2 separate regions of the Homo sapiens genome follow, and region 2 is reported to be linked to region 1. The links are microRNA targets in miRTarBase. Many come from high-throughput screens and were not tested one by one. Region 1 holds a microRNA gene; the other region holds the end of a gene's coding sequence.

Region 1 (4,389 bases):
TCTTTTACCCCTCACATCCAATCCATCAGCAAAGCCAGATGGTTTGGCCAACAATATGAATCCAGAATCTGACCACTTCTCATCACCACTTTTCTGAGTCACCGAGAGGCATCGGTGGTCCGATGACCCCCTGGGTCATCAGAAGAGCCTCCTTTTAGTCTCAGCCTCAGCCTTGCCCTCCTACACCAGCCAGAGTGAACGCGTTGGAACAGTCAGTCAGATTGTGTCAACCCTTTGCTCAAAATCTCCTGGTGCTTTTCCCCTAGCTCAGATAAAAGCCAGATGTTTTGCAGTGGCCTAGGACATCCTACAGCATCTGCTCCCTCCCCTTCTTCCTGACCTCATCACTCCCCTCTTACTCAGCTCCAGCCACAGTCACTTTCTAGCTGCACCTCCAATAGGTGCCTTTGTTCTGGAACACAGCTCCCCAGAAAACTGCATAAGGCACTCCCCACCTCCTCTCACTCTTTACGTAAGTGCCATCTTCTCAGTAAGGCTTTCACGGGCAACTTTATGGAAGACTACGATCCTGGACTCTGCCCCCTTCACCATACACTAATCACACACTCCCCATCTCCTTTGCTCTGCATTGTTGTTCCTGAGCACCTATCACCACCTAACATCCTGTGCATTTCCCTTAGTTATCTCTTTGTTCATGCTGGAGCTCAGAAAATGATAACCCAAAATCAAGGTCCCAGAAGCAAAAGTTTTTCTCCGACCTTCTCCTGCCCTCCTATCTCTCACCCCTCATCCTCCCCCAGGCTAGCCATAAAATCTGGAATACCTCTTCCCCAAGGTGGATCCTAGAGACCAGAACCCCATTTCCCCAAAGCCAGCCATAAAACCATAAAACTTTTCCTCCACCTTTCTATGTAAAACTGGCCAATGAAATTATATGACCCATCTTGTTTGACTGTAGGTCATAAGAATCCCCATTCCAGAGAGGGTGCTGCCCCACACCCAGAAGGAAGGAATACATGCTCAGAGAGGCCGAGAAGATTCCAGACAGGCCTTGCTGGGCTTCCCCGCTTGGTCTTATAAGATTTAGATCATTCCCTTTTGGTCCAATCCTATTTTTTACACACCTGTTTATACTTTGTTGAACCTAAGCATAAAAGTGAATGGTTTCCCCTGTGTTTTTGGGTCTTCATTCTGAAGGCTCCCATGTCACATAAACTATGGTCAAGCAACTGTATATGCCTTTTCTCCTATTAATCTGCCTTTTATCAGGTGATTTTCAGTGAAACTTCAGAGGGTGAAGGAGAAGTTTTCTCTTGGCCCCTACAATTGTATCTCCGATCCCAACCCAGACTGACACATCCAGGAGGGCAAAAGTGATTTTTGTGGTTTTGTTCCCTGACATATCCCTAAGTGCCTGGAGTAGCACCTAGTAACCAAAGTGCTCCACAAATACTCAGAGAGGAATGAATGCCTCTCTTCTCTTTATATCACTTAGGGCCTTTTGTGGTGCACCGAGTACACATGAGGCCCCCCAGATATCATTGTTTTTATATGAATAGCTTCAAAACCCATTTTGGCAATGCAGGCCTCTGTTTCCTCATCAAGAGAATAAAGTTATATCTAAGGTCTCTTGAATAGAAGTAACATCTTTAGAACCTTCTTCATTTTTCAGAAAAGGCACAGATTCAGACATATGAAGAAATGTGCCTTAAGTTGCTCCTTTTGAGCACCTGTTGAGTGCTAGGGATGCCAAGTGAGGCCAAGAGAGGTGCTATGGGAACCAGGTGCCAGGTGAGGCCAGGTGAAGACAGGTGAGGCCAGGTGAAGATAGGTGAGGCCAGGTGAAGACAGATGTTACGGGAACCAGCAGGTAGAAAGCTAAGTGCTGTGGAGAAAGAGCGGGAAGAAATGGAGGAGGTGTCTGGGACAACAGAACTTGAAAAGAACCTGCTTCTCAGTAGCCCCAAGTCCTGTGTGTGCCTGGCTCAGCGCATCCTGGGGAGCACACTTTCCTGGGATAGGGCACTTCTGCCGCCTCCCTCCTCAGTGCATACTTCCACCAAAGACTCTTCAGACTCTATTCAGACGAAATGATGAAACCATTGTCTAAATAAGCCCCAAGAGGCTTCAGTGAAGCAGAGTGAATAGGGAACTGGGGCATCGACTTGAGTAAATAGCTTAACTCAGGTCACAGAGCCCCCCACATAACAAGAGATGACCGTAAACAACTGGAGCCTCCAACTCCAACTCTATTGATCATACTCAGAGAAATGAAACCTAACATGTTTTACTCTCTCTAAATCCCTTAGAAACATTCTACCTGCTTTTGTTTTGTTTTTTGACTTGAATAGTTTCAGGTTTACTTTCTTTTTTTTAAAGAAAGCTTTTTTGGCAAGGTGCGGTGGCTCACGCTACCTGTAATCCCAGCACTTTGGGAGGCTGAGGTGGATCACCTGAGGCCAGGAGTTCAAGACCAGCATGGCAACCAACATGGCAAAACCCTGTCCCTACTAAAAATACAAAAGTTAGCCGGGCATGGTGGCATGCGCCTGTGGTCCCAGTTACTCAGGAGGCTGAGGCAGGAGAATCACTCGAACCTGGGAGGTGGAGGTTGCAGCGATCTGAGATCACGCCACTGCACTCCAGCCTGGGTGACAGAGCGAGACTCCGTCTCAATAACAAAAAACAAAAGGTTTCTTTCTTCTTTTTAAAACTGACACGTAATAATTTTACGTATTTATGAGGTACACAGTGATACCTCAATACACATAATGTACAGTGATCACATCAGGGTAATTACCATATCCATCATCTCAAATGTTTATCATTTCTTTGTGTTGGGAACATTTAATACCTTTCTTTTAGTGACTTGAAACTATATATTACTGTTAACTATAGTCATTCTACAGTGGTATAGACAACCAGAACTTATTCCTCCTATCTAGCTGTAATTTTGTATCCTGTAACAAATCTCTCCCCATCCCCCCTCCCCGTACCCTTCCCAGATGCTAGTATGCTCCATTTACTTTTCACTTCTATAAAGCCAACCTTTTTTTTTTCTTGCTAACCATTTCCATTTGTTTTCATTATCTTCCATTGTTTCTTTTTGAAAAGATAATCCCAGAAGTTAGTGCATTAGAAAAACTGTTTGAGATTAACTTTTTTTAGCTTCCACATATGGGTGAGAAAATGTTGTATTTAACACTCTGTGCCTGGCTTTCTGTCCTCTGAATGCATCAGCCATGATTTCACCGACTCTCTCTGAGTTCCCTGAGAGCTTTCTGCCTAAAGCCCTTCCATGGGTACTAATAACTGAGTCTCAGAGGCAGCAGCGGGCAGGCTTTTATTTCACAAAGTTGGTCAATCCCAGTCAGAGGAGCTAATGCAAAAAGTTAGACTCTGATCTGGGATCAAGCAGACGGTAGCAAATTAAAAACACTCCCATGTCTAACCTAAGCAAATTAATCTCATCAATATAACAATCAGCTGTTTTCCAAATTAAAGAAGGCAAACATGAAAACCAGTAGAAAGTCACAGATAAGCCCTTCTGATCTGACTCAAGTTCAAGGAGACAATCCCACAGTCCTTTCAGGTGCACAAACTCTACATCTCCAACTCCCTATTCTCTTTCTTCCTCCATTCAGCCTCAGATCGGGGGCATCACCTTGCAATATGCTGCTGACAGAGAGTGGGCCACCAACTTTGGGGATTGAACAAAAAATAAGGGATCCATGCAAAAGAAACAAAGAAAGTCAGAGTACAGACTGAGTCTAGGAGATAGAAGTATCACAGGAGTCAATAAAACACCTCAAAAGTTGCTTGCTTTCCAATAAAGTGACAACCTTTATCTCCTGCCTTGAATAAGCCACCTGGGCATGACACAGTCAATGGAGAACTTCAGCACCTTAGTATTTCACGGATTTGTCAATAATACAATTGGAAGATGTCTTTGGAGAATAAAAGCCAGCAGGTGCAACTCTGAGTATGTCAGAGTATATGAGGCAGATGAGATTTCTGTCCCTGAAACCAACCTTGTAGTAAACTGAACCTTCTGGAATTGCCATTTTTATGGGTCAAAACAATTGAGTGTCGGCAATTCACATGCTCCAAAGACAATAGACACTCACACACAGCAACAGTCCAATGAGCAATGTCATAAAACAACTTGTTCTCAAAGCACCGGAGTTCCCAATAGGTTACTGCTTCAATCAAAGATTCTGTTCTTGATAGGACTTACAGTTATGTCATAAAAGAAGAGACATCATTTCTTCCAAGTTATTGATAATAGTAGCAGTATCTTCCGGGGGCTATAAAATGACAGTCACACACAGTAACACTCCAATGAGCAATGTCATAAAATAGCTTGTTCTGAGAGCACCAGAGTTCCCTTAGGATACTGGTTCAATCAAAGATTCTGTCCTTGATAGG
Region 2 (4,389 bases), not on the chromosome of region 1:
TGGCTCGCTGCAGCCTCGACCTCCCTGGGCTCAAGCCATCCTTCCAACTCATCTTCCCGAATAGCCGGGACTACAGGCGCATGCCAACATGCTGGTTAATTTTTTTTTAATTTTTTGTAGAGATGAGGTCTGGCTATGTTGTGGCCCAGGCTGGTCTTGAACTCCTGAGCTCATGCATCCTCCCTCTTCAGCCTCTCAAAGTGCTGGGATTACAGGTATGAGCCACTGCACCCAACCTCCGTTTCCTTTTTTTTTTTTTTAAGACGGAGTCTTGCTCTGTTGTCCAGGCTGGAGTGCAGTGGCCCGATCTCAGCTCACTGCAACCTCCGCCTCCTGGGTTGAAGCGATTCTTCTGCCTCAGCCTCCCAAGTAGCTGGGATTACAGGCACCTGCCACCACGCCAGGCTAATTGTTGTATTTTTAATAGAGATGGGTTTTCACCATGTTAGCCAGGCTGGTCTTGAACTCCTGACCTCGTGATCTGCCTGCCTCAGGCTCCCAAAGTGCTGGGATTACAGGCATGAGCCACGGCGCCCAGCCCCGGCCTCCGTTTCTTACTTTCTCTCAAAACTAAACTTATGAGAAAGACGAGTTGGGGCGGATGGCCTCATCAGTCTCCTGTTTGGGCTTCTCTTAACTCTGAAGGAAAGACCAGCTAAAGGCTAGAGAGAAAACCGTGAAAGTTCCTCATCTCAGACCCGCCCTGTGGTAACCGATTGCTCTAAGACGCCCCCTCCCATCCCTCCCCTCCCACTACCCTCCCCTCCCAGGGCGGTGCAGTTTGTAGCCAAGAGCAAAATGCCCGCCTGGAACCCGCGCCTTCCTCTCTAACAGAGAGTTTCTCTTTCTGTTTCTCTTTGTGTTGTAGATTCCTAGAGGGGAGTGCCTGCGAGCCTCGGGTGAGCCTTCCTGGAGGAGCCTCCGTCTGCTTGTTCCCACAGGCCTCCAGCGCCCTGCCCTGTGGACAGCCCACCCCTCCGCAGCCCCATCCCTGCGGGGCGGTCTCTCTCTCTCTCCAGCATGCTCCCTGCGGCCCTGCCCTCCCGCCCAGCCCGGGCCACCTCGTGGGGGACAAGTCTCGCCAGCGCCCACCCCCATGGCTCGGGTCAGTCCTCATCGCTCCCCCTCCCCACCCCGCGCAGGCCACTGAGACGGTGGGACACACGCCCCTACCTGCTCCTTCCTGGGCCCTCAGTCCACCCGGGCTCGTCCTGGCAGCCCTTCCGCGCTTCACACAGTGCCTTTTGTGAAAGTGTCATCACGGGTCCCCTGAGGAGACAAGGCAGGTCCAGCGCACATCAGGCGGACTGAGCACTCGATGTCATCCGTGTCGATGTCATCCGTGTGTCCCAGACTGTCTGCTGTAGAAAACACTTCCTCCTCTCCTGAGTCTGTGAAGTCCTCAGTGGTCCTTTTTGGATTCTAGGCTTGCACCTCATACTAAACATTGACCCTTTCACTATGCCCTCAACCTGGGAGCATCTGGCAGGCAGGGGGGCAGGTACACACACACCCACAGGCACACCCACCAGTACACACGCGTGCGCATACACACATTTTGGTTTGACGCCCTGTTTTCAGTGGCCTGGGGAGGTCCACACTGGAAGTCGAATTCCAGCTCGCCTTGTTGACTCGCCTGTGTCCACCGGCCATGAGGAGCCCACGCCTGTCCTCCCCATCACTTTCCTGTCCCTGAGAACTGTAGATCATGCGCTTGTGAGCGAGGCCCTCCCCTCTGCACCAGCTCATTGCAAAGCGAACATCCTCTCCTTTCCAGGAGCCCCAGGATTAGCATCTGAAAAGGGTAGCACTTCCTTTTTTGTTGTTGTTTTTTTTTTTTTTTTGAGACGGGAGTCTCGCTCTATTGTTCAGACTGGAGTGCAGTGGCATGATCTCGGCTCACTACAACCTCCACCTCCTGGGTTCCAGCGATTCTCCTGCCTCAGCCTCCCAAATAGCTGTGATTACAGGCGTGCACCACCACGCCCGGCTAATGTTTGTATTTTTAGTAGAGACAGGGTTTCACCGTGTTGGTCAGGCTGGTCTCAAACTCCTGACCTCAGGTGATCCGCCCGCCTCAGCCTCCCAAAGTGCTGAGATTACAGGTGTGAGCTACCGCACCCCGCCGAGGTTAGCACTTTCATCACCAAAGACCCCGTGCCTCTCGTGGTCCTTTGAGGGATCCCGCCGCCACCACCCTTGTATTTTATCACGTGCTCTTCAGGGCATGTGGAATTCGTTGAGTTTGCTTTTAGAGCCAAGTTTCTTTCCCTGTGTGGGTTTTTGAGGAAAACCTGAGGTCCCCTAATCTGTGGCCACCACCCCCCCCCCCCGCCACGCCTTAGAGCAGAGCAGCCCCTCCTCTCATTTGGTGCAGAAACAGTCAAGAGGAACCATTGGCCTAGAGCTCCTGTGACCGAGAGCGCCACGGAAGCCTGGGGATGACGTCGGGCAGCTTTATTCTTTGCTTGGCTTTGGTAACTAGGTGGTCCCCTCAAGCATCCTCAGTTCCTCTTGCTGTTTATGAATCTAAGACAAGGAAGTCCTATAGAAGCCAAAGGGACAGGGACGGAAAGGACAGGTCCCAAGGGATGGGGCTGTCTTTACTTGTGGAAACCAGGAAATTGCTCCTCTCAGCCAACCAAGGTTGACCACACACCACCCTTCCGGAGCAGCTCAGTCAGCCCTCGGGGACGAGAAACCACAAGCGCAGAGACGCTGAGGCCCAGGCAGGTGAAGAGGAAGTGGCTTTGGGTTTTTAAAGTAGGTGAGCGTGAGCCTCTCTGACTGCTTCTTCCCCGGGGGGGACTGCAAACCGCTCAGGGTTGCGGCAGAGCCATGGACTTCCGGTCCCTGCAACGGGTGACCTAAGCGTGGTGCACCCATCAGTCACGCAGGAGGACTGACTTGACAGACGAAAGACAAGCCCGGATGACACAGGGTGAGAAGAGTCAGGGCCGCACCTCTGTCCCTGCAAACCAACAGGTGCATGGTGAGTGTGGCAGTCCCCACAGCTCCACAATGGGCTCCCCCGCCAACGGGGACGACAGGGATCTTCAGGAACTTCTGACCTCACCAAGTCAAGTGGACCACTCTCCACTCCACGAGGATGTGAAACGGTTCTTTAAAATGGGATTTTAGAGCCTCGGGAATGCATGTGCGTCACATCTTTCATATTATGGGTCAGGATAGATTCATTTCTTGCAACATAGTGGAAAAGATATAAGCTGCAGTAATTTGCTCTTTGAATGACCGTCACCCCCAGTATAGGATATGCTTGTATCCCCCCGTCACTCCTCCGCCTGTTTTTTAAACTTTTCCACCACCTGCGTCCAAAAAGAATGTTATAGCGAGTGCTCTTAAATGTTGAACCTGGGTGTTGCTTCCGGGCCAGTCTGCGTGGCTCCATGAAAAGCTCACTGCTGCCCCAGCCGGGCTTCTTAGAGGAGGTCAGTTGTCCTATGTATCATCATTTACTCTGGGAATCCTACTGTGAAATCATGTCTGTATTTTTCTGGAGCAGTTCACATAGAGTAGAATGTGGAATTTCCCGTGAACGTCTCCTTCCTCCCCCGTATCTGCCGCCTGTCACTTCGCCACCGTGCTAGAATACTGTTGTGTTGTAAGATGACTAATTTTAAAAGAACCTGCCCTGAAAAGTTCTTAGAAACGCAGTGAAAGGGAGGAACTTGTCCTTTACCCAGTTTTTCCTTTGTAGGATGGGAAAGTATAAAAAGGCACAGAAGGTTGTCATGGGCTGTTCCTTGGGGGTTTTTATCCTGCTCACCGTGGAGATAAGCCTGCGGCTTGTCTAACCAGCGCAGCGCAAAGGTCTCGATGCCTTTTGGTAACATCCGTCATTGCAGAAGAAAGTTTACACGACGTCAAAAAGTGACGTTCATGCTAAGTGTTTTTCCAGAAATATTGGTTTCATGTTTCTTATTGGCTCTGCCTCCTGTGCTTATATCATCCAAAAACTTTTTAAAAAGGTCCAGAATTCTATTTTAACCTGATGTTGAGCACCTTTAAAATGTTCGTATGTGTGTTGCACTAATTCTAAACTTTGGAGGCATTTTGCTGTGTGAGGCCGATCGCCACTGTAAAGGTCCTAGAGTTGCCTGTTTGTCTCTGGAGATGGAATTAAACCAAATAAAGAGCTTCCACTGGAGGCTTGTATTGACCTTGTAACTATATGTTAATCTCGTGTTAAAATAAAATATAACTTGTGGCTCCGTGTCACGGGACTGTTTTGTTGCATGAAGATATGACCCTAGTTGTGGAAGCAGCCTGGTGTCATTGGAAGCCCCCTGGGCTGGGGAGCTGGCCCCTGGGAGGAGCTGGAGACCTAGATAGCTCTCAGTTCCACCCCCATCCACGGTGGAGGGGGAG

The links. Region 1 holds the annotated microRNA hsa-miR-4427 (UCUGAAUAGAGUCUGAAGAGU, at 2,027-2,047, opposite strand). A microRNA usually pairs through its seed, bases 2 to 8, with sites in the 3' UTR of a target mRNA and lowers its output. Matches are read on the target gene's strand: a 7mer-m8 pairs with bases 2 to 8, a 7mer-A1 pairs with bases 2 to 7 and ends in A, and an 8mer does both.
Region 2: the mRNA of FNBP1 is a reported target of hsa-miR-4427. The part of its 3' UTR that is shown has no 7-base or 8-base seed match.

The regions. Positions count from the first base shown.
Region 1 is chr1:233,621,853-233,626,241 of GRCh38, reverse strand. MIR4427 (microRNA 4427) reads right to left here and starts at 2,090; the gene lies at 2,023-2,090. The region is part of intron 1 of KCNK1 (potassium two pore domain channel subfamily K member 1); the gene reads right to left.
Region 2 is chr9:129,887,026-129,891,414 of GRCh38, reverse strand. It overlaps FNBP1 (formin binding protein 1), which reads left to right. Exons shown (of 17, transcript NM_015033.3): 17 at 869-4,228. The coding sequence ends at 876. Among named protein-coding and RNA genes, the nearest start is that of MIR6855, 20 kb to the right of the region's middle. RefSeq lists enhancers at 1,558-2,445, 2,400-2,489, 2,820-3,219.